4 linked regions of the Homo sapiens genome follow. The protein of the gene in region 1 binds, or shares a complex with, the protein of each later gene. Each region holds a gene or a part of one and is shown on either strand. Other genes may lie near its edges. A codon is read from its position in the direction of its gene.

Evidence for each region.
Region 2: the proteins of UBA3 (region 1) and UBE2M are in contact, whole or in part, in a crystal structure (PDB 2NVU), measured with the Homo sapiens proteins. Residues at the interface, in NP_003959.3 of Homo sapiens: His53 (codon at 468), Pro54 (codon at 465), Asp55 (codon at 462), Glu61 (codon at 444), Ser62, Phe65, Cys70, Gln149, Asn152, Asp153, Thr154, Arg157, Gln158, Phe159, His160, Ile170, Arg173, Trp174, Ser181, Leu182, Leu183, Asn184, Pro192, Ile195, Val196, Pro197, Leu214, Met217, Arg254, Met255; in NP_003960.1 of Homo sapiens: Lys3 (codon at 2,769), Leu4 (codon at 2,766), Phe5 (codon at 2,763), Ser6 (codon at 2,760), Leu7 (codon at 2,757), Lys8 (codon at 2,754), Gln9 (codon at 2,751), Gln10 (codon at 2,748), Lys11 (codon at 2,745), Lys12 (codon at 2,742), Glu15 (codon at 2,733), Lys21 (codon at 2,715), Gly22 (codon at 2,712), Ser23 (codon at 2,709), Ser24 (codon at 2,706), Lys25 (codon at 2,703), Lys26 (codon at 2,700), Ala27 (codon at 2,697), Gln31 (codon at 2,685), Leu32 (codon at 2,682), Gln35 (codon at 2,673), Lys36 (codon at 2,670), Ile38 (codon at 1,549), Asn39 (codon at 1,546), Glu40 (codon at 1,543), Phe51 (codon at 1,510), Ser52 (codon at 1,507), Asp53 (codon at 1,504), Pro54 (codon at 1,501), Asp55 (codon at 1,498).
Region 3: the proteins of UBA3 (region 1) and NAE1 are in contact, whole or in part, in a crystal structure (PDB 3DBR), measured with the Homo sapiens proteins. Residues at the interface, in NP_003959.3 of Homo sapiens: Trp34 (codon at 525), Glu35 (codon at 522), Gly36 (codon at 519), Arg37 (codon at 516), Trp38 (codon at 513), Asn39 (codon at 510), His40 (codon at 507), Lys43 (codon at 498), Phe44 (codon at 495), Glu46 (codon at 489), Arg47 (codon at 486), Ser48 (codon at 483), Gly49 (codon at 480), Pro50 (codon at 477), Phe51 (codon at 474), Thr52 (codon at 471), Phe56 (codon at 459), Glu83, Lys86, Asn87, Leu90, Ser91, Val106, Ser107, Leu109, Asn110, Arg111, Phe113, Leu114, Arg116; in NP_003896.1 of Homo sapiens: Glu10, Gln11, Lys12, Tyr13, Asp14, Arg15, Gln16, Leu17, Arg18, Leu19, Trp20, Asp22, Glu44, Lys47, Asn48, Leu51, Pro52, Gly67, Glu68, Ala70, Gly71, Asn72, Asn73, Phe74, Phe75, Gln77, Arg78, Ile81, Phe92, Glu95.
Region 4: the proteins of UBA3 (region 1) and UBE2F are in contact, whole or in part, in a crystal structure (PDB 3FN1), measured with the Homo sapiens proteins. Residues at the interface, in NP_003959.3 of Homo sapiens: Ala401, Thr403, Thr405, Leu406, Glu407, Gly408, Asn410, Arg411, Thr412, Ser417, Val418, Thr419, Ser420, Ile421, Arg424, Thr425, Gln442, Glu443, Ala445, Ala447, Asp448, Val449, Thr451, Pro452, Gln453, Thr454, Leu456; in NP_001265234.1 of Homo sapiens: Thr27, Arg28, Arg29, Val30, Asp34, Lys35, Val38, Lys39, Val41, Ala42, Glu45, Val54, His55, Phe56, Pro57, Asp58, Pro59, Asn60, Leu62.

The regions. Positions count from the first base shown.
Region 1 is NC_000003.12:69,077,357-69,085,226, forward strand, and holds the start of UBA3 (NEDD8-activating enzyme E1 catalytic subunit), read right to left. Parts: upstream 3,010-7,870; 5' UTR 2,998-3,009; coding exon 2,978-2,997; intron 2,798-2,977; coding exon 2,756-2,797; intron 563-2,755; coding exon 442-562; intron 1-441. Other genes in the region: ARL6IP5 (PRA1 family protein 3), read left to right, coding at 7,692-7,867. UniProt on the Homo sapiens protein: Catalytic subunit of the dimeric UBA3-NAE1 E1 enzyme. E1 activates NEDD8 by first adenylating its C-terminal glycine residue with ATP, thereafter linking this residue to the side chain of the catalytic cysteine, yielding a NEDD8-UBA3 thioester and free AMP.
Region 2 is NC_000019.10:58,555,607-58,562,578, forward strand, and holds UBE2M (NEDD8-conjugating enzyme Ubc12), read right to left. Parts: upstream 3,006-6,972; 5' UTR 2,776-3,005; coding exon 2,667-2,775; intron 1,552-2,666; coding exon 1,457-1,551; intron 1,325-1,456; coding exon 1,286-1,324; intron 1,185-1,285; coding exon 1,081-1,184; intron 774-1,080; coding exon 710-773; intron 624-709; coding exon 483-623; 3' UTR 106-482; downstream 1-105. Other genes in the region: MZF1 (myeloid zinc finger 1), read right to left, coding at 6,466-6,972.
Region 3 is NC_000016.10:66,806,972-66,813,988, forward strand, and holds part of NAE1 (NEDD8-activating enzyme E1 regulatory subunit), read right to left. Parts: intron 6,876-7,017; coding exon 6,816-6,875; intron 6,727-6,815; coding exon 6,593-6,726; intron 3,802-6,592; coding exon 3,726-3,801; intron 3,443-3,725; coding exon 3,403-3,442; intron 2,105-3,402; coding exon 2,018-2,104; intron 1,643-2,017; coding exon 1,550-1,642; intron 1-1,549. UniProt on the Homo sapiens protein: Regulatory subunit of the dimeric UBA3-NAE1 E1 enzyme. E1 activates NEDD8 by first adenylating its C-terminal glycine residue with ATP, thereafter linking this residue to the side chain of the catalytic cysteine, yielding a NEDD8-UBA3 thioester and free AMP.
Region 4 is NC_000002.12:237,970,011-237,977,027, reverse strand, and holds part of UBE2F (NEDD8-conjugating enzyme UBE2F), read right to left. Parts: intron 3,937-7,017; 5' UTR 3,921-3,936; coding exon 3,803-3,920; intron 3,380-3,802; exon of another isoform or gene 3,281-3,379; intron 1-3,280. UniProt on the Homo sapiens protein: Accepts the ubiquitin-like protein NEDD8 from the UBA3-NAE1 E1 complex and catalyzes its covalent attachment to other proteins. Together with the E3 ubiquitin ligase RNF7/RBX2, specifically neddylates cullin-5 (CUL5).

The sequences.
Region 1 (7,870 bases):
TCCAAAATTCTACGCCTCTATTATTTAGTACTTACATAATTCTTAACATGCAATTAATTATACTCAAAGCTAAGATGTTCATTCCAACTAAATTTCAAAATTTAAGTAAGCACACCTATACTCCTATCAAAATTAATTTCTCACAGTAGCACTACAAAAGGGGAGTATGTTTCAGAAAGCATTTTAAATTTTTACATGAGGTCATGAAGTTAGATTTTTCTCACAAAAATTTTCAACTTATATTACATGAGAAATGTTAAGACTCAAATATTCAAACAAAATCAGTTGTGAATATTCAATCTCATATTTTAAGAAAAATTTAGTTTCACAAAACAATTTTATTAGTATTTTCATTGTAAGAGCAAATTAAAAAAGAAGCATTCTATTAGTTTTGAAACATAAAACTATTAGAGCAGTTATTTAAAAATAAACGTTTCTCACTTCAGTGCTCGGTTCGAAATCAGGGTGTGTGAAGGGTCCAGATCGCTCGAGGAACTTCTTTACATGGTTCCAGCGACCTTCCCAGTCTCCAGTGTCCCCACACCCACCATCAACAGCCATTCTGCACAGAACACAGTAAATTCAGCTGCAAAGATCAGTATGAAAAAAACCACACCTACAACTATTATGGTATCCCCAAATGAAAAGGTAACCACACCAGACCTGCTCAAATAAAAAGGAAAATATTCAATGTGATTATGTTTATGCTTTGAAATTTTTTCTTGCCTATTATACAATTCATTTAAAGTTAAGAACTGCACGTTTCTATTTTTATTTCACCCAATGGATGAAATAAATCAGTCTACATGTTTTTGGTTTCCTAAAGCAATCCAAGGTTCAACTTAGGATATTGGTCTATTATGTGAGAAATTGACTTCTCTACATTTGGTATTTACAAAAAAAACACTGCAAGCTTCCTCAATCTGTTGTTTCATCACACTTGCATTAGGAAATATGAGATACAACAGAGAAAAAAAGTCACACTTTCAGAATTCTGATGCTTATATGTCTGATGCAAATTTAATATTTATGTGTCCTTTCCAAAGGTGTAATCTAAAAATCACTTTGATGAGAGGAATTTTCACACACTTTTCTCAGAAATAAGGTTATTTTTTCTTTTTCTTTTTCTTTTTTTGTGACAGAGTCTCACTGTGTTGCCCAGGCTGGAGTGCAGTGGTGTGACTGCAGCTCACTGCAGCCTTGCCCTCCTGGGCTCAAGTGATTCTCCTGCCTCAGCCTCCCAAGTAGCTGTGCCTACAGGTACATGCCACCATACCCAGCCAATTTTTGTATTTTTAGTAGAGACGGGTTTCGCCATGTTGCACAGGCTGGTCTGAAACTCCTGAGCTCAAGTAATCCGTCCACCTCGGCCTCCCAAAGTGCTGGGATTACAGGCATGAGCCACCGAACCTGGCAGAGGTCTTAATTTTTTAAAGAATCTCTTAATGCTGTGGGACGGCTTTTCTTGCCACTAAACACAAAGTTTCAGATTACAATTACGCCACAGATAGACATCTACAAACCTTTTAGAACATACAACAGAATAAGGTGGGACTCCTCTACAAAATTCATCTATTTTATACTTAGTTAAGATTCACGTTTGGTTGTGATTATTTTTAATTTTCTAATTTCCTATAACTCCACAGTTTCTACCGTCAAATATATTAGTAATATCCAATTTTTACAAAAGGGACCAAGAAGTATTGCCTAGCAATAAAAACCATACGTTTTGATGTCAGAGTTGTGTTGGGTTCCACAATTAACAGCACTGTGACCTTGAGCAGATTACTTAATAGACATAAACCTCATCTGCAGGCCGTTCATAGCTACTTCTTTCAGCCATGAGGATATAGATAATCACACAGAAGACTCAGTACAGTACGTGGGATATGGTAAGCAATGTTTAATTGTGATTTCATGTAAAAGTGGGAGGGAAATAAAAGGCAGGAAAGAATGTGAAATTAAGTTTGTCATCCCGGTCCTCTTGCAGCTGAAATTCAACTGAGGGACACACATAAAGATCAAAGCACTGCTACTGGGAATCGGCACGGAAATTTACAAACTCACCATAACCAATGCAAGAGTATTTTTTCCCTGCCCAGGCAGGGAGGGGAGTAAATTATGTGGCGCTGGCCAGGTTAGAAAACACTTCGATTAAATCTGTCTCACCAGCATAGAATTAAGCATCTGATAAGAAATAGGGTGTGTAGTAAAAGGGATAAATAGGCTGTTTGAAGTCAACAACCTCTTTCCAGATCTTTTAAGAGCCAATTATTCTGCCAAAATGACTGGAGTGCTTAGTACAATACCTGACATGTAGAGTTATCATTAAAAGTTTGCAATTAGTACTACTGTCTCAGTGTTTGCAAAAGGCCACAAAACGGTCTTGTGTCCTTTTCCTGTGTGTTTAAGGTAGATTGCCTTTTCACAGGGTCACTGCTCTGACAATTTGGGATGGAGGAAGAGGAGTGCACAAGGGTCCTTCCTCAAGACCTTTACGTCAAGCACCCCGGAGGGCCCCTGCAGGAGCTGGGGCAGTACAGCCTGGCCCCGACGCCCGCACCGGGCAGATACCGGGAGCGGCCCGCCAGGCCCCCGGGGCTGCGGGGCGGGGATCAGGGGATGAGGCAGCGCGGCCTGCGCTCCGGGTGTCCCCCTCCCAGCCCCCCGGGCCCGCTGCGGCTGGTCCCCTAGGCCTGGGGTGGGGGGAGGCGGGGGTCCCCGGAGAGGGCCCCGGCCTCCCGGCAGCACTAACTTCTCAGCCAGCAGCTCCTCTATTCTCCTTCTTTTCTTCTCCCTAAAAGAGAGAATAAAAGAAGGGTCAGCATCGCGCTACACACTGGGCGCCGCGAGGGGAGGGGGGCGAGGGGACGGGGCGGGGGGTGTGGGGACCCCGGGTGGCGGCGGCAACCGCCCACCGCCGCGCTCTCTCACAACCCAGCCCAGCCCGGCGCGTCTGCAGAGCCCCGGTACTTACGGCTCCTCGCCATCCGCCATATTGTTCTCCGCCTCTTCCCAGGTGCCCACGCGCGGCAGGGCGGGGAGGAGCGGGACTGGCAAAGCGGGGAGGGGCGGGGCTGGCGAAGCGGGGAGGGGCGAGGCCAGAAACACAACCGGCAGGGAGGTGCGAGGTTGACTGCGGCTGGGCTCCCATGGGCTTTAAAGTCTTGCCCTGTAATTATAATCTTAATTACCTACGCTTAATTAGGTGAATCTTATACCGTGCATAATGTTGCTCTGCAGCGTGAAAATGTAGACAATACATTATGCGTTTACACAAACTATATGTTAATACGTAATTATACAAAATATTGGTATATTCTATGAAAAATTCGTGAAGAACCCTCCCAGTATGCCAGAGCTTTCCTCTGGGGGCAAAGATCAAGGAAATTTTCACTTTCTGCTTTTCAGGATGGTTCCAAAGTCTTTGCCTTTATAAGTACTCACTTGAATAATAAATTTATCTAAATCCGTTTACATTGGTGGGGTGGGAGATTATTATTTTCTTTGAACAAATCAGCATTAATATTTTCATGTCACATTCTGTTAGATAAGTTCAGCGGAAACAAAATGATTAAAACTTTTCCTGAGATAAATGTGTATATTTAGATACAAAGAAAAAAGTATAAAGGAAAACAATCACAAAAATCAAAGAATAACTGAGAACACCCATAATCCTATCACCTAAAGATAAATTGTGATAAAAGTTTCAATTATTTTCTTCTAGAGTCAGAAATACAAATATACACTGTGAATCTGGATGGCTGGATAGAGGGAAATGATCATGTTCAAAAATGTATGTATATACACGTACACACACATCTCCTTCTATGGAGTGGGACAAGAATGATATTTGGAATCAAAAGTAACTGATTTTAAATTCTTCTCAGTTGTGAGCTACGAAACCCTTAGACACTTCTATTTCTTCATTTATAAAGTGGGCATAACACTATTCACCTTGTAAGACTGATAATTAAGTAAAATCCAGAGTGGCTCTCAAAATACAGTTCCTGATCAACATCACTTGGGAAGTTTTTTTTAACACAAATTTTCACCCCTCACCGCCCCCACCACGCTCCCCACCGCCCCCCCGCCACCCCACCCTTCAGCCTTCTGCAAAGCCTGGGGTGATTCTCCACTGGTAAAGTTTGAGGGCCACTGAAATGGAGTACATAAAGCCTGATGGGTACTCAGTAAATGTAGCTGCTGTTACTACACTGTGATATTTAACCTCCTCTTGTCCTAGTTTTCAGTGAACCTTAAGGAAAGCTTGTCCTTTATGGTCCCCCAATTAGGTTCAGTTCAATAGCATTCACTGAGCTGAAAGTCAATGCCAGGCAGTGAGCGTGGGAATAGAGTTCACAGTCCCTATCAAGAGATACCAGCCTCCTTCTGCATCACATGTCTCAGCGTCAACTATGAAACTACTTTTTCTTGCCCAGACAACTCCACAGATGGTTTCACTGAGGATTTAACCTCAGTGCTTATCAAAATGGGCTCCTGTAGCCTGAACCCCCAACAATACTGGATACCCTTTGATTAGTGGTAGTGAGCATTGCAACCCTCTCAGATAGTGAAAAGCAGCAGTCACCTTAAAGGCCACCTAGTCCAGTCTCACCCATTTCACAGGGGAGGAAACTGAGGCCTAGGGATAGAGTACAGCTAGCCGATGAAGAAGTCTGCAAAGGTATCTGGCCCTGCATCTGCTTGCTTTGAGACTAACAGCCTGACTCACCATGGTGGTATTTTGATAAACGACACCAGGCACTCTCACTGGCTTAGATTGATTGACGGATTAGAAATAGCCATCTGCCCTTGCCAGGAATGAAAGCAACAGAGACATGCAAGCAAAACCTTCAACAGATTTATTTTACTTCAAATGGAACATATCATAAACAATTAGACTATCTGCTATGGTTTTTAAACAGACAGATAGTCTGAATGGTCCTATCTAGACACACCAGTCCCATTATAAAAGCCCCATCAAGCAGGGCTCGGCTTCCCACACCTGTAGTCCCGGCTACTTGGGAGGCTGAGGTGGGAGGACTGTTTGAGCCCAGGAGTTTAAAACCAGCCTGGGCAACATAGTGAGACCCTGTCTCTAAAAATAATAATAAATTAAAGCTCCAGAAAGACCTCTACAGTGAATCTGACCCCTCCCTCCCCGGAATGAACACTAACAAAGAGCTGCTACTAATAGCATTTCAAACAGTTACTGGAAAAAAGTAATGACTCATTACATGTTCATTTTTATTTAAAATAATTTAACAAAGGTAGAAATATTTAGAGAAAAAAAAAATCTCCCATACCCCAAAGAGAGAGACAGGGTTAACATTTTGGGAGGGAGACAGAAGGGAATCATGCTATAAACAGCTTTCTCTGTCTTTTCAGAATTTATTTATTTATGTTTAAACCTCTAAAGAGGTTTAATTCTTTCTTGGGTATCAATTGCCTGTGATCAAGGAGTAATCATATTGTTACTAATACACTCTTGACAGCTTTTGGTCATGCAGTTCTGAGCAGTTGGAAGATAAAGTTCTTAGTTACAGCTTCTAATACTCATAAATCTCACCAACAGTGTGGGGCCCCACTGGAGTTCCCACTCTCATCTTGACCAAGATGATTTACTCAGCTTGCCCACAGTGCTGCCTCTTGACATTCTGAAGCCCTGGGGAATTCCTCCACACCCTCTGACTTCCTGTAACTGAGCACTGAGGCTCAGTGCATCTCTATTTAGCACTCCTCTTACTGTCTCATATTTAACTAGTGTTTCCACTGGATTGCAGAAGTTTTGAAGGCAGAGCAGGATTACATTTTTCTCCTCTTTAAAAAAAAAAAGAAAAGAAAAGAAAAAAAACCCACAGTGCTTTCACAGAGCCTCAAAAGAACTCGAAATACTTGCTGGCATTGTACTGAATATTCTCAACCTTTTCCCCCTACCCAGATACATCCACAACAATAAAGTTGGAGCAAGGTAGAGAAAAGTTAGTAGATGTTTATAATGAAAGCATAGAAAACAAATCAGATTAAAGCACTATTAATAGCAAACAAGAATCGTGGGCTATCCTATTGCTAATAACAATAATAGTAACATATAACTGTGAACCTTTATTATACACTAAGCATTTCCTATACATTCCTTCACTTAGCCTCGTCTATATGGCAGATGTTCCATTATCCCCACTTTACACATGAAGACACCGAGGCTGGGAGAGATTAAGTAGTTTCTCCAAAGTCACCTGCCAGAGAGGAAGGAGCTGCGACTCTAATTTTGCTTTCTCTGACTTCACACCATCCCATTTTTCCAGAATCAAGAAAACATGAGCACTCAGGAATATTTTCACATTTTAAACTTTATTCAAAAAGCAGCACATAAGATATATCTTAGCACTAATTCCATGCAATCACCAAATTTTCCTAAACAACAGTAGTAGTAGTAATTTCTTAGAGTCGCTGTAAGCTCCTTAACTGTCTTCTGAATTAATAAGGAAAATTAAATTATGTTTTCTAGACTTTGCATTAGTATATTTCATTACTTTCCAAGTTTTCAAAAATTGGTGATCTGAGTAGAGTGAATTCACCTTGTCTAAGCCACTTAGGGGCTTAGAGACTCTGTTATCTTAGAAATCTTCACCTTAGAATTCTACCTATTACATTATACAATTAAACAAACTACTTTTTTTCTCATGCATTGTACCAATCAGCCCCTTAACTGAAAAAAGATGACCCTTGGAAGCTTAGAAGAGAATTGACAACGAATACTTCTTTTGCCAGGTCTTTGGGCTGGGATACAAAACATCACGTTATCTATGAATATATTGTGGTCCCTCAGTGAAAGCTGTCACCAAATATTGCAATAAAACTAAGAAAACTTTTGAAGTGGAATGCATATTTCTGCCCAGAAAATGCTGGATGCAGAACAACTAGTTCACTGCAGACAACTGTTTGCTTTAAAATGTAAGCAACATGCCCAGCTCAGGACTGAAGTGGCCAGAGTGCCTACTTTATCAGAATGGCATAGCAGTCCAACAATTTAGCCTAGAGAGAACAGAGGTGGAGAACAAAGAAGAGAAGTGAAAAAAACAGACCAGCCCTTCTGTTCTACATGACCTTCTTTCCCGTTTTGCCAATCTGATTTCACACATAGTGACTCATGGTGAAACAGAGAAAACATGGGAATTGCATTCAGATGTGTAGAGGTTAGTAAGACTTAGTTTTCAAAAGCAGCTCATTCTCCATTAACACTGTAGTCGCCTTCCATTTCATTTCACTTAGATTGGCATCTGCACAGCTGCCAAAATTTTTCTCTAAGTCAGAGAACACACTCCTAGGTAAACCTTCAAAAAAGGTATTTCGAAGGAGGCAGCTTCTCTGCTGCTAGAGAAGGCATTGCCACCTCCCTTCAGACAGGGGATTTCCGCTAGTTGCTTTCTGTCATTTCGTCTCTATTCTGCACTCAGTCCCTTGTTCTGTCTGGAGGTTCCTGTTTTCCTGTACCCAACCAAGAGCCAATGAAGAAGTAAAGAGGAGCAAACACGCCCGCCCACTCCCAATTTCCTTTGCTCTGCTGTCTGCCAACCGCAAAGCCGACCGAGACGGAGCCGCTGTCAACTCTCCAACTCAGCTCAGCTGATCGGTTGCCGCCGCCGCCGCCGCCAGATTCTGGAGGCGAAGAACGCAAAGCTGAGAACATGGACGTTAATATCGCCCCACTCCGCGCCTGGGACGATTTCTTCCCGGGTTCCGATCGCTTTGCCCGGCCGGACTTCAGGGACATTTCCAAATGGAACAACCGCGTAGTGAGCAACCTGCTCTATTACCAGACCAACTACCTGGTGGTGGCTGCCATGATGATTTCCATTGTGGGGTA
Region 2 (6,972 bases), on another chromosome or scaffold:
TGCTCCAATGCCACCTGTGACCACACCTTCCACCACCCCAGCTTTGCAGGCCCTAATGGACCTCAGCTGCCCCTCCCACCCCATAGAAGTAAGAAGCAGAGGCCATGCAGTAACATTCCCCTTTAATAGCCTGGTGGGACCTCCAGAGGTGGAGGGGTGGGTTGCCTGGGCCCAGCTACCCAGGCCCGTTGCCCACCCACTCCACAGCCCAGAGTGGGGGCTGAACAAGCACCCAGCAGGGGGGCTAGACAAGCCAATTCATTTCCCATCGCTGAGTGGGTCGGGGGAGGCAGCGCCGACCTTAATCACATGGTGTTAAAAAAAAAAAAATAACTAGGGGCACGTGGCAGGAAGGGGAGGCAAGGCCAAGGCAGGGGATTCCCCCACCGGCCGCCCCCCAAACCCCTACCCATGGCCCCCAATAAATATTTGCAGGGGATGCCAGGGCTTGTGGCCGTGGCGGGGGTGGGTATGCGCCAACCCTATTTCAGGCAGCGCTCAAAGTAGGTGGAGCCGATGTAGCCACCCCGCATGGAGCGCTGCACGTTCTGCTCAAACAGCCGCCGGTTGTTCTGCAGGACCTCTGCGGCCTCCTTGTTCAGTGGGTCCTCGGGGTTGGGCTCCTGTGGCCAGTACAGGTAGGGGGGGTCAACAGGCCAGAGGGACAGAAGGCCAATCTCCCCAGACCCAACCACCTATTCCTACTCACCAAGAAGAGATACTGCAGGCCATAAATTATGGAGTTTATCGTAAGGACTGGCTTCCAGTCCTCTCTGTGGACAGAGAGCATCAGGGTCAGGGCTTGGTGAGTGGGAGACTGCCACAGGCCCCTCTGGTGTTGGGCAGGTCAGATCCAGGGCATAGGAGAGTGAGCATGTGAGAGGCTGGGAGGGAGGGTGTGGAGCAGGACAGGCCAAGGAGAAAACCAAGGTCAGGCCATGAGGAAGATGACTGGGAAATCAAGAAACCACAGACAACAAAGGGGTGGGAAGGGACAGAGTCTGATGTAGTGCCCACAAGACCATGAGGGAGGCCTGGCAGGCAGCGCTGAGGAGGGCATTAGAGGGCCAGTGTCCTCACCTGAGGATGTTGAGGCAGACGTTGCCCTCGAGGTCAATGTTGGGGTGATAGACCATTGTCTCACACTTCACCTTGGGGGGATCATGCGGGTAACCCTGGCCCACCTGGCTCCAGGAAAAGAAAAGAGAGATGGGTAGGTGCCTGGAAGGGCCTCAGCTGCTGCCTCCTCTGTCCAGGGAGCCATCCCTGCCCGCCTGGGACTCACCTTAAAACTGAACACAAACTTCCCACTCTTGTAGAAGCCCTGGGAGGAAAAGGGGGAGAAGAAAATTTTAGGGTTCCATCCTGTGGGGCCCGATGGGCAGAACATGTCTCCCTCCTCTCAGTGGGGACACCCTTGGTTTGCTCCTGGGAATTCAGCCATATGCACCCTCACCTCATCAGGACAGATGACCAGCTTGAAGTTGAGGAGGTCGTCTGGATCTGAGAAGCTGATATCACACGTCTTGGGCAGGTTCAGCTCGTTTATGTCTGGGTTTGGGTAGCAGAGAGTCGGGAACAGAAAGAGGGAGGGGAAGAGAGAGAGAGAGGGAGCCAGCAGGACACTTAGGGCGGGTGTTTGTTAGCAGAGCCCCCATCGTCTCCTCCTGGACCCCCAGGCGCCTCTCCTGGGCTGTGCTCCACACCTCCAGCCCTCTCCCTGCTCCCCAGCTTGGCTCTTGTGGATACACAGCATACCCCAAACATGCATGTTCAGCTGTGTATGCGTGTCCCAACTCCTGGCCCAGGGTGACCCCCAACTTTTCTGTATCCACAGCTCCCAAATGCCCCCACTCCCAAACATCCTCTGACCGCCCTAAACCCCAGGCTCCCCATCCATGACCTCCACTCTACAGTATCTACCTGTTCACCCAAACTCAAAGATCCTGCCCACCCCCACCAACCCTCAGTCCTCACTGTCCTTCCTCTTCTCTGTCTCTCAGACCCAGCTTTCCATGTGACCCCCACACTCTCAAGTCCCCAACCCCCGCCACCCTACCCCACCCCCTCTGACTCTGAGGTTCACAGCACAATAGCCTAAATTTCCCCTCACCCCTGTCTCCAATCCCTGGTACTCATTAACCTTCCCTCCTCCACCTGTCACCCCAAACCCCAAATTGCTGTGACTCAGGCAGGCCCATGAGTCCCTGGTCCTCCAACCTACTTCACCCGTTTGACTCAGAGATTCCCAGAGACCCCAGCATAATAAACTAAATCCTCTTCCACTCATATCCCCAACCCCTGGCCTCTACTATCCCTCTCTTCTCCGCCTGTCACCCCAAACCCAAGTTCCCGTCTAACCCCCAGACTCTCGAGTCGTCAGTTCCTCCACTCCACTGCCTGACTCTGAGATTCCGAGTCCCTAGTAGCAGACACCAGGCCTTCCTAATATCCTAAACCACCACATACCGGGCCCCTATCTCTGACCCCCTCCCCGTGACTGCATGATCCCAACCCTCAAGACTTGACCTCCGACCCCCCCCACGCTCGGGGCCCTTCACCTCTGACCCTCAGCAACCGCATTACCCCTTCCTGACTCCCACATCACCCTGCCTCAGGCCCTGACCTCCGACCTCCGGCTCCAACCCCATCCCCTGACCCCCTACCCTTCTGGATCCGCAGCTGCGCCGCCGACGCCTTCTTGCTGCTGCCCTTGGTGCCGCCCGCCGACTCCTCCTCCTTCTTCTGCTGCTTCAGCGAGAACAGCTTGATCATCCTGCCGCCGCCGCCGCCGCTGCCGCCGCCGCGGGGCCCGGGACCCCGGCCACCCGGCCCCCCGCCGCCGCCCGCGTCGCCTCCGCTCCTCGGACCCGCAGCTGCGGCCTCCTCCGCTGCTGCCGCCACCCGCCCGGCCTGCCGCGCCGCTCCGCTCCTCTCCGCGCCCACCGCGCGGCCCGCCTCGGCTCCCGTAGTCCGGCTCCGGCCTGGCCCAGCGCCTCGGACTCGCTCGGCAGCGCTCGGCCAAATTCGGCTGTTCTCGGGCCCGCCCGGCCCCGCCCCCACTGCCCGGGGCCGCTCCTTCCTTGCCCTCGCCAACTCTGGTCTCAGGCCCCGCTGCAGCTGCGGACTCGGGGCTCCCCCGACCGTGCCGTTTGGCCGCTCAGCTGATCCCTCCGCGAGGGGGTGCGGCTAGGGGTGGGAGGAGGACACGGCAGCTGCGGTGACGGCGGGCGGGTACTGGAGGATCGTCTTCCGCGGCAGCAGCGGCTTTAGCGCGGAGGTCGGCAACGGCCTCGGGCGCCCCGCCGCTTCGGATATTTCCGCCGCCTGCCCGCTTTGGCTCTTCCCGCCCGGCCTGCGTTGTGCGCCTGCGCAGCCGCCGCAAACCCGCGTTGCTCAGCGATGGAGTTTGGGGTTCGGCCTCCTTCGGCTGGACTCGGGCATTTCCGTTCATGGAGATGACGCTTCGGCGGCCTTGCAGGTCACTTCCGGCGACTTTCGCGGGGCCGGGCAGGAAGCGGAGTTAGTCGCCATCTTTGAGTGGGGCAGACGTGGGCCGCTTTTGCTCGCGGTCACTTCATCTTAAGTTGTATATATGTGCAGAGCGCGGCGCGGGTGGTCACCTCCGCTGCTGCCGCCACCCGCCCGGCCTGCCTTTGACCCTATGGGTCACAGACAAGGCAGGGTGATCGCGGCAAGACCCTGAGTGAGACTAGATGCGTTACCCAGAGGGTGCGAGGTCGAGTACCTTCCCTGTCCCATCGCAAACCCAAAGATCCCCGTTCCTGGAGATTCTGATTGAGGTAAACTAACAAAACATGTATTGTGCCAGAGAGTGGTAAGCACTGTGGAGGGTTACAGTGGTGTAGGGGAAGACCTGTCGGGGTGGACACTTGGGGAACGCGACGTGGGGGCGGAATCGGGCCGCTATTGGCGTGGGCCTCAAGTTCCAGCGGACACGCACTGCAGCCTCTGCGCTTCCCCCACTATCTGGAAAAGGGGATGGAGGCGGGGGTCAGCTTCCCATCCAATCACAGCTCAGCGTGCCTCGGAGGGCGGGAGGAAACGGAACTCTGCCGGTCAGCGACTTCCGGCCGTCACCACGGAAACTGCCAGCCCCGTGAGCGCATGGTGTGGCACTTGCCTGCGGAGGGGCCCAGGCGCCACTCCTCTGATTCTGCAGATGCTCCCCCAGGAGTGGCTTCTGGCCAAGGCCAAGCCCCTTCTTTGAAACTGCCTTTCAGCCTGTGTTACCTGCACCCAAGTCACCCACTGGAGGGTTGGGGGAGAGGGGCTGTGTGAAGGACCTGGACAATGGGATGGAAGGGGAAGATGGCTAGGGCAAAACAGGCAATGGCACTGGGTCCTGGAGACGCTGCCCTGAAGCCTGCAGTATGCTGAACTTATGCTCTCAGCATCTGTCCACTTTCACCTAAGCTGCGTTTCCACTGGTTTGCTGCTGAATCTACTCCTGACTGAAACCTTCCAATGTGCATGGGGCCAGGGTGGGAGAAGCCTTCAGCTCTAGCGATGGGAATGATCACCACAGGGCAGGGAAACTGGCCCAGGGCCTGCAGCCTTTGCTTCTCAGACTGGCTGGGGTTCCATCTGCAGGGTCCTACACCCTCATCACCTGCTGCTTGTGAACACGAGAACAGGAAAGTCTTGAAAAATCTGAATTTCCAGGTGAAATCTTCTAGTTTTAAAACTAGGAAATGGTTTCCTAGGTGTAAAGGAGTTTTACAAAGACATCCTGAGGCAGAATCTGGATCACCAGGTGTCAGTTTGCTCCTGCTGGATCGCATAATCTTGGTTGGCTAGGGAGATTCTGGCCTGTCTGGGTCCTTTCCTGGGGTTTGGCTTGGCCCATGGCCCAGGGGACAGCCGTGACAGGGTGTGGAGGGGAGCATGCAGGTTGCAGGCATCAAGTTTAGGCACAGTACCACCCACAAACCTGGGGGTTGGCAGATCCAAGTGGGATCCTTGGCTCCCAGCTGTAAGAAGTGCTGTGACCCCACTGCTTCCCTTTGTTCCTCTAGTACTAAGGGTGAGATGCTGAATGTCCCCATGAGTACAACTCTTCAGCGGGTACTCCTACTGATAGGTAGATAAAGGTAGAAAGCTTTGGCCGCTCAGGACCACTTTAGGGAGTAGGGTGCTGTTAGGGTAAGGGTAGCTGTACAGCTGAGCTGGGGTGGGAGAGGTAGTATCATGGGAATGAATCATTAACGCTGACTTGGAGCAAGGAGGACTGGTGCTCAGGAGGCTGGTAACCTCCCTGAGGATTGAGTGTTCTCCCAGCCCTTGGAGGCCCTGGTCTCAGTGTCAAGGGAAAATCCCATGGGATTTCATCACCAGACAAGGCTGGGCTCCAGACCTACCCACCTAGGCATCACTGTGCAGGGCAGAGACTACAAACACCTCTCTTCACTTGCAGATCTGTTAAGGGCAGGCTGGAACAGGGGTTGGAAAGGGAGAAGAGACTAGGCCAGCACCACCTCTTCCCCTTGGCAACAGCAGGTCCTTCCAGGAGCAACAGTTTTTACATACCTCCCAGAACCAGGCTCACTGGGCCCCTTGGAGACACCCACACCAGTGCCCCCTCAGGAGTCTCCTAGGCCTATGGGGCACCCTCTTGAGAACAGAGACCTCCAGACCAGCTGAGCAGTACCCCCTCAGGCCCACAGGGCTTCCCTGCCAGCTAAGAGACCCCAGGACTGGCTCAGCAGTGCCCTCTTCTCAGGGGCCTGAGTTCCAGCTCCATGGGAAACTCATTGGAGCTTCTAAGTTGCAATGCTTCCCTTTGTTCCTCTAGTCCTAAGGGTCTAGCTGCTTCCTGCAGGAACTTTCCCATTTCTAAGACAGATTGACTTAACCTTCTCACTCTCCCATCAATCACCTAACACCTAGTTAGCTGTGCTCTGTCTCTTGATGGGACTCAATCAGATCAGGCATGGCACCATGCTATGCACATATGTACTCTTGGTGGATGCTCACAGAGAACATTTCTTCCTCTCTGGGTTTGAGAAACCGAGGTCCATTGCCCAGGGAGAGCTGAAGCTGGACTGCCCAGGGCAGTTCTGCCCCACCTGCTGCTGGTCCATTCCCTCTGTAAACTAGAAGCTGGGTATAGCGGCCATCCCACACGCGGGGTAGGTGATGCTAGGAGCCACCTCTCTCAGGGTGAAGAGGGGTGTTGTGGAGGTGAACCCTCACAGGAACCACGTGGTTACAGAGGGAGCACACCAGCCCAGCACTCGGGGGGCTGGAGGGTGGGGAGTGAAGGACGCACAGGTAGGGAGGCACTGAGTGGGTGGAGACCCAGTTTCCATCTACTGTTTATTGGACACCTACAGTAGCCAAGCCCTGGGCGGACCTGCTTATACTTATGTAATCGCCAGCCTCACAATAACCAGGGGAGGTAGGTGTTCTGACCATGGCGGACACAGTGCGTCCCGGCTGGAGCTACTCGGCGCTGTGGACGCGCTGGTGCTGAATGAGCTTGGTGCTCTGGTGGAAGCGGCGGCCACAGTCCTGGCAGGCGAAGGGCTTCTCTCGTCGGTGGGTGCGCAGATGCTGCGTGAGCGTGGGCCGCTGGCGGAAGGCCTTGCCACACTCAGGGCATGCGTAGGGCCGTTCACCCGTGTGGATGCGCCGGTGCTGGGTGAGGTTGGCGTGCTGCCGAAAGCTCTGGCCGCACTCGGGGCAGGCGAAGGGCCGTTCGCCCGTGTGGATGCGCTGGTGCTCGGTGAGCCGCGAGACCTGCGTGAAGCCCAGGCCGCACTCACCGCAGTGGTAGGGCTTTTCGCCGGTGTGTGTCCTCTGATGACGCGTGAGCTTGAGGCGCTGGCTGAAGCGCTGGCCACACTCGGGGCAGGCAAAGGGTTTCTCGCCCGTGTGTACGCGGAGATGCTGCGTGAGCGTAGGCCGCTGGCGGAAGGCCTTGCCACACTCGGCGCAGGCGAAGGGCCG
Region 3 (7,017 bases), on another chromosome or scaffold:
CTGACATGCCAAAAGGAAGTCCAAGCTAGCCACGTGAAGAGATACCTGACCAGCCGCCAGCTATTCCCACTGTTCTGACTAAGGTGCTAGTTACATGAGTAAAAATGTCTTCTTGCATGTCTAACTCAGTCAGTCAAGCCTTCAGAATGACTCCACCCCCAGGCTCAAGCAACTGCATGCCTCCCCAAGGAGAACTGCCTGAGACCAGGCAACCCACAAAATCACGACACTATTTATTGTTTTAAACCACTAAGTTTTGAAGTGGTTTGTTATGCAACAGATAACTGAAATAAATACTAATCAAATAATACAAATAAAGCAATACATATTTGGTGTTTATTCTTTTTTTTTCTTCTAGTAAGCTTGCTTGTTAGGACTATAAACTCTGGGCAGCGCAGTGGCTCATGCGTGTAATCCCTGCACTTTGGGAGGCCAACACAGGAGGATCACTTGAGGTCAGGAGTTCGAGACCAGCCTGGCCAACACGGAGAAACCCTGTTTCTACTAAAAATACAAAAATTAGCTGGGCGAGGTGGCGGGCGCCTATAGTCCCAGCTACTCGGGAGGCTGAGGCAGGAAAACTGCTTAAACCCAGGAGGCGGAGGTTGCAGTGAGCTGAGATCACGCCACTGCACTCCAGCCTGGGCGACAGAGCGAGACTCCGTCTCAAAAGAAAAAAAAAAAAGACTATAAACTCTGGAGACACACTGTATCAGATGGAGCAGCAGGTTTTATGATACCCCTAGAATGTGTTGCTATGCAATAATCCTGCACAATTAAAATTATCATCCCAAAGAAAAATATTCTGAGCAACCTCAGATCTTTGAGATTATGCCAATTCTCCAATGACTACATTTGCTGAAGATAAAAAGTAGATAACTAAACAAAGAAATTCCTACATCTTCAGAGTTATTGAGTTCAGAAATTAGTAGCATACTTTTTTTTTTTTTTGAGACAGTCTCACCACAGTCACCCAGGCTGGAGTTTAGTGGCACAATCACAACTCACTGTAGCCCCAACTTCCCAGGCTCAGGTGATCCTCCCGAGTAGCTGAGTCTACAAGTGCACACCACCATGTCTGGCTAATTTTTTGTATCTTCAGTAGAGATGGGGTTCCACCATGTTGCCCACGCTGGTCTCCAACTCCTGGGCTCAAGCAATCTGCCTGAATCAGTCTCCCAAAGTGCTGGCATTACAGACGTGAGCCACCGTACTATGCCTGGCCAGCATATTTCTTGTGGCTTTCCTATTCCACTAAATTAAACTCAGTGTGAGTCTTAGTAACAAACTATGGAAAATGACAGAAAAAAGTTTTCTTCTATACATATTCAACCAACATCCCCCTGTAATAGTTTAGAATCGAACACTATTTTGCAAATAGTTAAACTTAAAAAACAAAAGGTGGTTCTTCACTGGGGAACGTTTGGGGTGTAATCTGTTTACAATGTGAAATTCAAGCAACACTATTATAAATACCCTGAGAACACTTTCAATTTAAATGTTTTATTGAAGATCTTATTATATCTGGTAATTCAATTGCTATTCTTACCTGGATATCTACCCTGTTGTTTATGAAATCTATCAACAGCCCGTAACATTAAGTACAACACTATTTCATTATCTGGATTGTCCATGCTAGAAACTGAAAGGAAAAAAAATTTCAGTTTAATTTGGTTAATTTGCAATGTAACAAACAATGAAGGGCTGAATTTACTATATACTTGAGTTTCAGGACTATTAACTGGAGTCACACAATCTCTACTGAAGTAGTAACATACTGACTTTAACTCATACATATCACACAATGGACTCAGTGACCTAAATATGACTTTATGCATACATTAAGTTTCATATAATATATAAATTATAATTACCTAGATAAGCTTAGAATAAAATTAGAATATGTTTACGTTATCTTTAATATCATCACCATATACTCAACACTATTATACACAAAATATTTATATCTTTTAAATTAATTAAAATTAACCCAGAATCAGAAGGCTATTATACTTACTAATTTCATCCTTGTTAATTGTATCCAAACCATATTCTTCAGCTAAGGATCGACATCTTACCACTCGAAGAAATGCAGAATTGCTGCCTGAACAGAGGAAAGATATTCTGGAAGTAATGACTGTGACTGGTGAATATTATGAATCACAGGTGACTTTAAGAACAGAGAATTATGTGTATACCCTTCTCAGACATGAGAATGTGAAGAAATGTTTTCTCCTTGGTTCTAATAGCAGAGAAAGCACTAGAACATGAATCACCTTAAATTTATATCCCTGGCACTACAACCAGTTCAGAAGCAAGTAAGGTGATGGCCTCTCTGAACCTCAGTTTTCAAGTGTAAAATGGGGATGATACTGTTTACCTTTGAGAATTGTTCTACAGATTAAATGTGACATCTGTATAAAGTGCATCTCTAGCACAATGCCTGATATGGCTCTAAAAATAATAGTTTTCATCATTATTATGGATAAGTAGTCCTAAAGGAGAGAGGTTTATGAATTGTACTCTTGATATATGTAATGACTTTAAGCTTTGTATTATTGAAATTTTCAAAAACGCCCCAAAGTAGAACAGAATAATAAATGTTCAAATACCCAGCATCAAACTTGTGATCTAGTATTATATAATCTAATACAACAAACGCTAATTCAAGATTAGTCTAATAGAACAAACAAGGTGCAAGATTAGTAGTGGCAGAAAACATTAAAACCGAGCCTAAACAGACATTGTGGAGAAGTCATAAAATGGAAAGCTTGGATAAATCTATTTTAAGGATGGGGAGCATGCAAAATATAAACTTCCACAGGACGTAGGAGCAGTAGCTACAGGGAGAAATCTTCAGATGGCATGCACAACAGATTGGGTATTTTGAAACTGACTCTTAAATAAAAGAAAATGCTTTTGGCCTACTGAGGAGTTACTGAGAAGACTCCTACGAACCTAACCACTCCGAAACTAGATGGCAAAATTCTTAACTCCATTACAGTCATTTAACACAGATCAAAATGAGTATTTAAACCAATATTGTCAATGTACATGTGACTCAAGACTTCACACCCAAAGTCTTCAGACAAAAAAACTTCCTAAATTACTTAAAATTTAAAAACTGAAAATCCTGTATTAATGGCAATTTTCAATTAACTGACCGTCAAGCCTTTTTAGCATTGCCACAGATAAACATGTTCTACCTCTGATTCAGTCTTAAAATACTCGCCATGTATTGTATTATGAGAGGAAAAAAAAAACCTTACCCAATAATTATCTATATCTATATCACTGAGGCCATGGAAAACTTAAAATTTCAACCATTCAAAATACCTGGGAACATTCCCTGTGGCACATTTCTATCAAGCAAAATAAGGAAATTAATTCAAGGGGACTTACAGAGTAATTTTAATTCTTTCTCTGAAATGGACTCTGGTGCCTGTAAAGAGATAAATACAGATTCTGTTCCAGTTTAAAAGAGAAGATTAACAAAGGGTGCGGCACAAAGCCAATCACTGTGAGATGGGAAGGCTTTCTCCAAGAGCTGGGAGAGCACTTTAAAAATATCTTGTTTCCTTATCACAAGCTATCCCATTAGGCAGGGAAATGACAGCTCCCTCTAAAGAAGCACAGAGGCAGTGCCACACCCTCTGTCTCTAAACCCTTTCTGGCTGGAGTTACGTGCTGAGGCCTGTATGGGCACAGTGTGCCCAGTAGCTTACCTGGCCAATGGACTGCAGCAATTTGGCAACATGATTACCCACAGCGGCAGCATCTTTCTTTGCTTTTTCACGGTAACTAAAAAAGAATAAAAAGCAATTACTAACAAATTTTTAAATTAGCAAAATTTAAATTGTTACCATGAACAAAAATTTTCTTTCCTTTTCATGAAAAAACACAGGTCTGACAATGTATGAAATGTGAAAATGCCAGGGAAATGCTATCAACAGCACCATGAGTAGCTGGGAATCTTTCCAGTGTTAGTGACGGACTCTCAGTGCCCACTAAAACCCAGGGTCCCTCTAACAGCACCCAACTTAAAAACTGCTCCCCTAGAGGGATCTATGATTTCGGCTTCTGTGACAGAGGACCTGAAAAAATACATTACTGAAGAACATGACTTATCTCCTGGAAGTCAAGTCCAAGGAAAGTTAAATACATTAAAACTGTTCATCTCCAATGTAAAACTTCTTTGTTTTTTGAGACAGGATCTCGCTCTGCCACCCAGGCTGGAGTACAGTGGCGCAGTCCTGGCTCACTGCAGCCTCAACTTCCCACGCTCAACTGATCCTCCCACCTCAGCTTCCCAAGTAGCTGGGAATTCAGGCACACGCTACCATGCCCGACTAATTTTTGTCTTTTTTGTAGAGACGGAGTTTCACCATGTTGCCCAGGCTGGTCTTGAACTCCTGGGTTCAAGTGATTTAGAAACTGAAAATACTGTATTAATGACAATTTTCAATTAACTGACCTTCATACCTTTTTAGCATTGCCATAGATAAACATGCTCTACCTCTGATTGTTTTAAAATACTCTGTATTTATTATGAGAGGAAAAAAAAACCCTTACCCAATTATTATCTGTATCTATACCACTGAGACAGACCATGGAAAACGTAAAATTTCAACCATTTAAAACAACTGTGAACATCCCTTGTGGCACATTTCACCACCCGCTTTGGCCTCCCAAAGTGCTGGGAATACAGGTGTGAGCCACTGCATCCGGCCATAAAAGTTTTCTTTACGTCTATTTACCTTTCACCCTCTAAAAATCATCAGTGTTCAGGCTGACTACCTCCCATGTAAGGTCATACTTCTTTCTATCCTCAATTGACCTTCCCCAAGTTTTAAGTAGTTGAACTCTTAGGCTAGGACAACAAACCAAGATTCGTTCAATGGTGACATGATAAAGAGTGAAATCTGTCTGGGGAAGAGAGATCATCTCTGTGTGACATTACTTGGACCCCAAAGAAACCGAGCCAGCAGACCTGGATTCTTTGCACCATGCCCTAACTATACGAGGGTCATATTCATTGAGACCCATCCCTGTGATAGTCTATCTGGGTTCAGGCTAGTGATACCTGGATAGCAAGATGTCTAGCTATAGTCATAGACTATAACTTATGAAACATTAAGATAAAAAATTCATCAAACCTTCATGGTTTTAAGTTACAAATACAAGGTAGTATAGGGCCATAGCTAAGCATACAGGCTCTGGTACTGGGTTTCCTGGGGTTCAAATCTTGGTTCTGCCATTTACCAGCTATCTGACCTTGTATAAGTAACCTTTTCAATACCTTAGTTTCTTCATGTGTAAAATGGGGCCGGTAACAGTCTCTCTCTCTCTCATAAGGTCGTTGTGAACCTTGTGTGTGTGTTAAATTACTTAATACATATAGTTCATAGCACAGAGTTAAGGGATCAAATATTAAGTTTATCATGAAGTATGAAAAAAAACTCTGCCTCCTAGGCGTATGTGGTAATTCTGTATTTCCCATTCAATTTTGCTTTGAGCTTAACAAGAATTGCCCCCTAAGTTCTTTTTTTTTTTTTTTTTTTTTTTGAGACGGACTCTTGCTCTGTCTCCAGGCTGGAGTGCAGTGGCACGATCTTGGCTCACTGCAACCTCCGTCTCCTGGGTTCAAGCGATTCCCCTGCCTCAGCCTCCCGAATAGCTGGGACTACAGGTGCGCACCACCACACCTGGCTAATTTTTTGTATTTTTTTAGTAGAGACAGGGTTTCACCATGTTGGCCAGGATGGTCTTGATCTTCTGACCTTGTGATCCACCCGTCTCGGCCTCCCGAAGTGGTGGGATTACAGGCGTGAGCCACCACGCCCGGCCTAAGTTCTTTTTTTTTTTTTTTGAGACAGAGTCTCACTCTGTCGCCCAGGCTGGAGTGCAGTGGTGCGATCTCCGCTCACTGCAAGCTCCGCCTCCCGGGTTCACGCTATTCTCCTGCCTCAGCCTCCCGGGTAGCTGGGACTACAGGCGCCTGCCACCACGCCCGGCTAATTTTTTTGTATTTTTAGTAGAGACAGGGTTTCACCGTGTTAGTCAGGATGGTCTCAATCTCCTGACCTCGTGATCCGCCTGCCTCGGCCTCCCAAAGCGCTGGGATTACAGGTGTGAGCCACTGCGCCCAGCCTGGTCTAAGTTCTTCAGCTTATTTTTACTTATTTATTTGAAACAGGGTCTTGCTCTGTCACCCAGGCTGAAGTGAAGTGGCATGATCATGGCTCACTGCAGCCTCAAACTCCTGAGCTCAAGAGATCCTTCTGCCTCAGCCTCCTGAGTAGTTGAGATTAAAGGCGAACACTACCATGCCCACCTAATTTTTCAATTTGTAGAGATGGAAGTCTCACTATGTTGCCCACGATGGTCTCAAACTCCTGGACTCAAGCAATTCTCCCACCTTGGCCTCCCAAAGTGTTGGGATTACAGGCATGAGCCACTGCAGCTGGCCTAGTTTATTTATAAGCAATGAGGTTGTAATAAACTTTCATTTGATTTCTGACAGGATGATAAAATGTTTATCTCTAATATAATCAGACTTTTTCTATTACATAGTTTGAAAACAGTGACATACACGTTTTGCAGTTTTATATATTTGCCTGAATCTGCAATCATATCAGGAATTGTGCCTCGAACAGGTAAATTTCCTTGACCCTCTTTGGCCACAAATTCCTTTAAGGCACGAGCTAAAATCCAAAATGATGGAGTCTAAAAGAATAAGAAAAAATTAACATTAAGTGGCGTTTTACTTTGACCCAAAGTTTTAGCAGCAATGTTTTTACTTTTGTTGTTGTTACCTGTTTGGTGATATTTATGCAGCGATCATCATTAAATATATCTTCAATACTGCTTGGGATCTAACAAAGGAACATGAAACATTTACTTACACAGTATTAAGAATTCGCCCATCTTTATTTTCAGTGCTATTTCTTCAGATATGTTCTTTGAATTCTCAAATTGTAATCAAATACAAACTTCTGATTGGTTTATAATTTTATT
Region 4 (7,017 bases), on another chromosome or scaffold:
AGCCTCCTTGAACTCTCTTTTCTGTGGACTTGCACTTCTATTCTGCTACTTTGGTTTCTGCTTGTCGCATCTGCCCCCACAGAGCCTGTCCTACCCCAGTATGTGGGTCTGGCTGTCTTGCTGCAATAAACCCGCAAACTGGGCAAGTTTCTTAACCTGAGTCTCAGCAGTTTATGGGTAAAATGAAGGATCAATCTGGCAAGGCTTTGAAAAGTCAAACAAGAATTACCCCATTAAGTGCCTACTATGGCTCGAATGGGGCCAAAATTCATGCTGAAGCTTAATCCCCACTGTGGTAGTATTAAGAGGTGGGGCCTCTAGGGAAGTGATTGTCATCAGGGCTCTGCCGCATAAATGGATCAGGGCCTTATAAAAGAGCAGGAGGAAACTAGCTTAGGCCCTTTTTGCCCTTCCATCTCTTCTGCCATGTGAAGACACGGCAACAAGGTGCTATCTTTGAAGCAGAGAACTACCTGTACCAGATACCAATCCTACTAGGATCCTGGACTTCCCAGCCTCCAAAACTCTATTGTTTATAAATTACCCAATCTGTGGCATTTTGTTACAGCAGCACAAATGAACTAAGAAGGTGCCCAACAGAGGGCCTGGCCCTAAGTGCTCAGTATACAAAAGCTCCTATTAGCTACTATTAACCATGACAATGATTGGGTAAAGAAGATGGGACAGTCTGTTTGTCAGCTTCTACCCACTCCTCCTCAGCTGACATCCAGGCCCTCCTTGCTGCAACTCCTCAGGCACTGAAGCACTCACTGTCTACTCCAAGTACAGCAACAACACACCATTTTCCTGGCTTGTGCTGCAGATGGAGCCCGGAATCTGAGAAGACACTCAAGTCCTATCAGGCACACCCAAGTAAGGTGCTCCAGCTCTTGCCCCGCCCTCTGGGCCTCTTAGGGTAAAGCCTCCAGCACAACAGACGCTGAATACAATCTACTATTCTCCCAGGCTTAGTAGGTAAGGCCAAAATGTGAAATACCATTCTCACTCCACTTTCAACCAATCATCAGGCTGGATAATCCAAAACTAAGTCCAAACTCAGGGGCAGAAGGAGAGTAAGAAAAAGAGTACAGGCCAGGCACAGTGGCTCATGCCTGTTAGTCCAGCACTTTGGGAGGTCAAGGCAGGCAATCACTTGAGGTCAGGAGTTTGAGACCAGCCTGGCCAACATGTTGAAACCCCGTCTCTACTAAAAATACAAAAATTGGCTGGGCGTGGTAGTGTGTGCCTGTAATTCCAGCTACTCAGGAGACTGAGGCATGAGAATCGCTTGAACCCAGGAGGTGAAGGTTGCAGTGGGCCGAGATCATGCCACTGCATTCTGTCTTAAAAAAGAAAAAGAGGACACTGTTAAGTCCCCACAAACCCAGTGCCCTCACAGTTCCCATTCCTTCCCCAGTTTAACAGTGATTTGTGTCTGGGAAGGCCAAGCACAGCACATTTACATACACCAGCTCTTCTGCTGTTAGATTCTTCAGGACACGTAAATGCCTGCAATCTCCATGTTGTCAACCTAATACAACATGAAAACAGGGAGTTCGAATACACTAATCAACCCTTTGCTTTCTAGCTGCTCTACATGTAAGAAATGTAAACACTTGACGGGTACAGTGGCTCACACCTGTAATCCCAACACTTTGGGAAGGCCGAGGTGCGTGGATCACTTGAGCCCAGGAGTTCAAGACCAGCCTGGGCAACATAATGAAACCCCATCTCTACAAAAAAATAAAAAATAAAAAGACTAGCTAAGCATGGTGGTGCACGCTTGTAGTCCCAACTACTCAGGAGGCTGAGGTGACAGGATCGCCTGAGCCCAGAAGGCTGAAGCTGCAGTGAGCCATGATTACGCCACTGCACTCCAGGCTGGTGATAGAGTAAGAGTCTGTCTCAAAAAAAAAAAAAAATTTTAAAGAAATGTAAACACCTGTGATAAAGTAAGGCCAGGCACAGTGGCTCACGTCTGTAATCCCAGCACTTTGGGAGGCAGAGGCGGGTGGCTCACCTGAGGTCAGGAGTTCAAGACTAGCCTGGCTAACATGGTGAAACTCTGTCTCCATTTATGGCCGGGCACAGTGGCTCACACTTGCAATCCTAGCACTTTGGGAGGCCGAGGCGGGTGGATTATCTGAGGTCAGGAGTTCAAGACTAGCCTGGCTAACATGGTGAAACCTCGTCTCTATTAAGAATACAAAAATGGCTGGGCACGGTGGCTCATGCTTGTAATCCTAGCACTTTGGGAGGCCGAGGCGGGCGGATCACCTGAGGTCAGGAGTTTGAGACCAGCCTGGCCAACGTGGCGAAACCCCATCTCTACTAAAAATACAAAAAATTAGCTGGGCGTGGTGGCAGGCGCCTGTAATCCCAGCTACTATGGAGGCTGAGGCGGGAGAATCACTTGAACCCTGGGGGCAGAGGTTGCAGTTAGCCAAGATTGCACCACTGCACTCCAGCCTGGGTGACAGAGCGAGACTCCATCTCAAAAAAAAAAAAAAAACAAAAAAAAAAAAACCACAAAAATTTGGCCAGGTGTAGTGGCTCATGCCTGTAATCCCAGCACTTTGGGAGGCCAAAGCGAGCAAATCACCTGAGGTGGGGAGTTCAAGACCAGCCTGATCAACATGGAGAAACTCCATCTCTACTAAGAATATAAAATTAGCCAGGTGTAGTAGCGCATGCCTGTAATCCCAGCTACTCGAGAGTCTGAGGCAGGAAAATTGCTTGGTACTCGAGAGGCTGAGGCAGGAGAATTGCTTGAACCTGGGAGGCGGAGGTTGTGATGAGCCAAGATCACACCACTGCACTCTAGCCTGGACAACAAGAGCGAAATTCCATCTCAAAAAAAAAAAAAATGAGCTGGGCGTGGTGGCGGGTGCCCGTAATCTCCGCTACTCAGGAGGCTGAGGCAGGAGAATTGCTGGAACCCAGGAGGTGGAGGTTGCAGTGAGCCAAGATTGTGCCACCGCACTCCAGCCTGGGTGAGAGTGAGACTCTGTCTCAAAAAAATAAATAAATAAAATACAAAGTTAACTTTATTATAAATAAGCAAATTATAATCTCCTTAAAGGTTGCAACTGTTTCTTCATCTTTTATAGGTCTTATGACCCCCAAGAAACCGACTTCAAAGCACTTGAAAATTTTAAGAGTTTGCTAAATGAATAAATGCAAAATTTATGCTCAAACATACAAATGAATGCATATCTGCATGCACGCATACTCTCATACATTTTACCAACCCTTCTCCAAGGATAAAGTTTCTCCTCACCAACATGGATAGCAGAAGTCACGAAAACTCTAGAACACTATATGTTATTAATTCCGTGAAGAGAACTAATTTTTCACAAGATTCGCCGTAGGCTTTGACCTGAATAAAACAGGAAAAGATCCTAAGAGATTACAAAATTTGACTCCTTCCCCTTTACAGAGCAGAAACTATGGTGCTGAGAATCAGAAAGAAAGGAAGATAATGGCAGCTCTGAAACCAGTCTTAGGCTTTGCTGACTCTCAGCACCTTATTCTTTCTGCTAGCATTTTGGCAGACGTGACAAAGAACATCCCAAGTGTATAAGACACACTGCAGTTTCTAATACCATCTCCTTGCAACAGTGTGCTCATATCACCTGCGTGGTACAATGTCCTTCACTATAAGAGATAAGCAATTATATTTTAAAATCTTTTAAACAGGTATTTCTATTCAGCAGTAGGTTGCTTTATATCCCCAAAGACTCTCCAGTCAAACTTCCTTTTGTTATAGGATATAAAAACAGTTCACACGAATGATCATTACCTTTAACAAGCAATTTGTCTCTCACAGAAACCCTCCGAGTCGAGTCGGACGCTGTGGCTGCCGTCCGGGACCCTTTGAGACCATCGTCACGCTTCAGTTTACTTGCTAGCGTTAGCATTACTGCTGCCTTTACCCTGAAAGACAGCAATGAAAGCAGGGTTAAGGACCAGGTCTCCAGAGACTAATTAGACACTGAGAAAAATGTATAAGTGCTTTTGTATTTTGATTTTTTCCCACAATTTAGTTATGGAAAAAATTTGTACACATTAATAAGATTGGATTCCTTCATAATACATTTGAGAAGCTCTATGCCATCCTCTATAAGCCTAACTTTTAAAATTATGAATTAACATTTTTTAAAAAAGAGAGTCATGGCTGGGCACGGTGGCTCACAACTATAATCCCAGCACTTTGGGAGGCCAAGGTAGGAGGATTGCTTGAGCCTAAGAGCTCAAGACCAGCCTGGGCAACATGGCAAAACCCTGTCTCTACAAAAAATATAAAAAAATTAGCCAGGAGTGGTGGTGTGTGCCTGTAGTCTCAGCTACTCGGGAAGCTGAGGTAGGAGGATCCCTTGAGCCTGGGAGATTGGGGATACCGTGAGCCGTGATTGTGCCACTGCACTCCAGCCTGTGTGACACGGCAAGACCCTGTCTCAAAAAAAAAAAAAAAAAAAAAAAAAAATTTAAAATTAAAAAGAGTCATGCATTTCACACTCACTGGGTGCCAGGTCCTGGGATGTGGTTGTGACAAAGCTCCCGTGGAACACAAGGTCTAGGGTGGCCTCCACAGTTTCTCAACCAGCATGCCCTCACCAATGGGTTCCACATGAGTCCATTACTGCCCACTGGTAAGTTGGCCCTTCCCTGCTGCAGGGGATCATGCACACACATGGTACGGTCCCAGGTTCTGGCCCATCACCAACTGAAGCAGCACAGCCTCTGGTGGAAGAGGAGCACCACTCTTTGCTCTCCTTCCTCTTTTAATAAAGGTGTGGATAGAGCCTTAATAAGCATCTTCTCATTTATTCATGCTGTGTTGCATTTACTTACATTTGTGTTTTATTTATATTTTTTGGCAATTTCAACATCAAGACTAAATTAAAATTAATGTCCCAAAGTAGATTATGTTCATTGGTGGCTTCCACCCCATCTGTGTTGCAGGTTCCCCTGCTGCAAGCTCACTAGTAGGGACAACAAAGACCAAACACAGGTGATGCCCCTTGCTATCTGGGAGACGGTTGAAGAAATGCCACAATTTGTTTAAGATTTTATTTTTTAATGGCAGTTTTAAGTATACAGTAAAATTAACAGGAAGGTACAGAGATTTCCCATACGCCCCCTGCCCCAACACATGCACATCCTTCCCCTATTACCAACATCTCCCACCAGAGGGTACATTTGTTACAATTAATGAACCCACATTAACACATTATAACTCAAAGTCCACAGCTTACATTATGATCCCACTAATTGTAACAAAGTAACTATCCGCTAGACTCTGCCTTCTGTTTCTAACATAAACTGACATTAATCGTCCTCCTTGCCATGGTCAGAGAGGGTCACTGGAACTTCTTTTGACTGAGGACAAATATTTGTCACCAGGGCCAGGTGCCGTGGCTCATGCCTGTAATCCCAACACTTTAGGGGAACGAGACAGGTGGATTATGAGGCCAGGAGACCGAGACCACCCTGGCCAACATGGTGAAACCCCGTCTCTACTAAAATACAAAAAAATTAGCCGGGCGTGGTGGCCCACACCTGTAGTCCCAGCTACTTGGGAGGCTGAGGCAGGAGAATCACTTGAAGCCGGGAGGCAGAGGTTGCAGTGAGCTAAGATTGCACCACTGCACTCCAGCCTGGCAACAGAGTGAGACTCAAAAAAATAAAATAAAATAAAACAAAATAAATTGTCACCAGTTCAATATTTCCATAATTTCCTTTGTTGCTTTCGTATCATTTTATTTCAATACCACTCTGATCGTTTCAACAGAAAATGATCTAAAAATTCCATGTGAAAAGCTTGACCTAAGCACAGAAATTTTAGGTTGAGGCTAAGATCCTGAAAGTCAAATAAGAATACTCCGTTCCTCATTGGCATTTGAAACCATTTTTCACCCAGGTCTCTTACACAGTTTCTCACACCATCTTCTGCATATCCCCTAAATGCTGTCAGATTTTATTTTCTATTGTTTGTACCATGAAAACAGTACAGGCCAGGCATGGTGGCTCATGCCTATAATCCCAGCACTTCGGTAGGCCGAGGCAGGTGGGTCACCTGAGGTCAGGAGTTCTAGACCAGCCTGCCCAACATGGCAAAACCCCATCTCCACTAAAAATACCAAAAAAAATTAGCTCGGCATGGTGGCGGGTGCCTGTAAATCCCAGCTACTCAGGAGGCTGAGGCAGAAGAATAGGTTGAACCCGGGAGGTGGAGGTTGCAGTGATTGTGCCATTGCACTCCAGCCTGGGCAACAAGAGTGAAACCGCATCTCAAAAGATAAAAAAATTTAAAGAATTTTTTCAAAACGAAAACAATACATAGAATACGATCTTCTGAACTGCACAGTCTTTTCCACTAGAGGACACGGACATACACATACCCTAAACCCCTTAAGAAGCACTGGTCTAAAGGTTTCAAAGACAGCTCTGCACTTTCACGGTCATAAGCTCTCAGAATTGCAAAGTTGGAATGGACTTCTCTCACTCCCATTCCATTTTAACATGTGGACCCCAGGACAACAGAGGCCCAGAAGGTAGGCTGCCCAAAGCCACTCAGCTGCTAGAAGCTGTCACCACAGACACACTAGTTTCCCTCTTGTGGATGACAAAAATGTTTTTTGTTTGTTTTTTGAGACAGGTCTTGCTCTGTAGCCCAGGCTGGAGTGCAGTGGCGTGACTTGAGCTCAGTGCAGGCTCAAACTCCCAGGTTCAAGAGATCCTCCCACCTCAGCACCCTCCACCTCCTAAAGCAGCTAGGACTACAGGCAGGCACCATCATGTCCAGCTAATTTTAATTTTTTTTGTAGAGACAGGGTTTCACCATGTTACCCGGGCTGGTCTTGAATTCCTGAGCGGAAGCAATCCACCTGCCTCAGCCTCCCAAAGTGCTGGGACTACAGACGTGAGCCACCATGCCGGGCAGGAAATGTTTTTATCTCGAGTGTGGTCATGGTTTCAGACTGATCAATTACACAATTTAAATATGGGCAATTT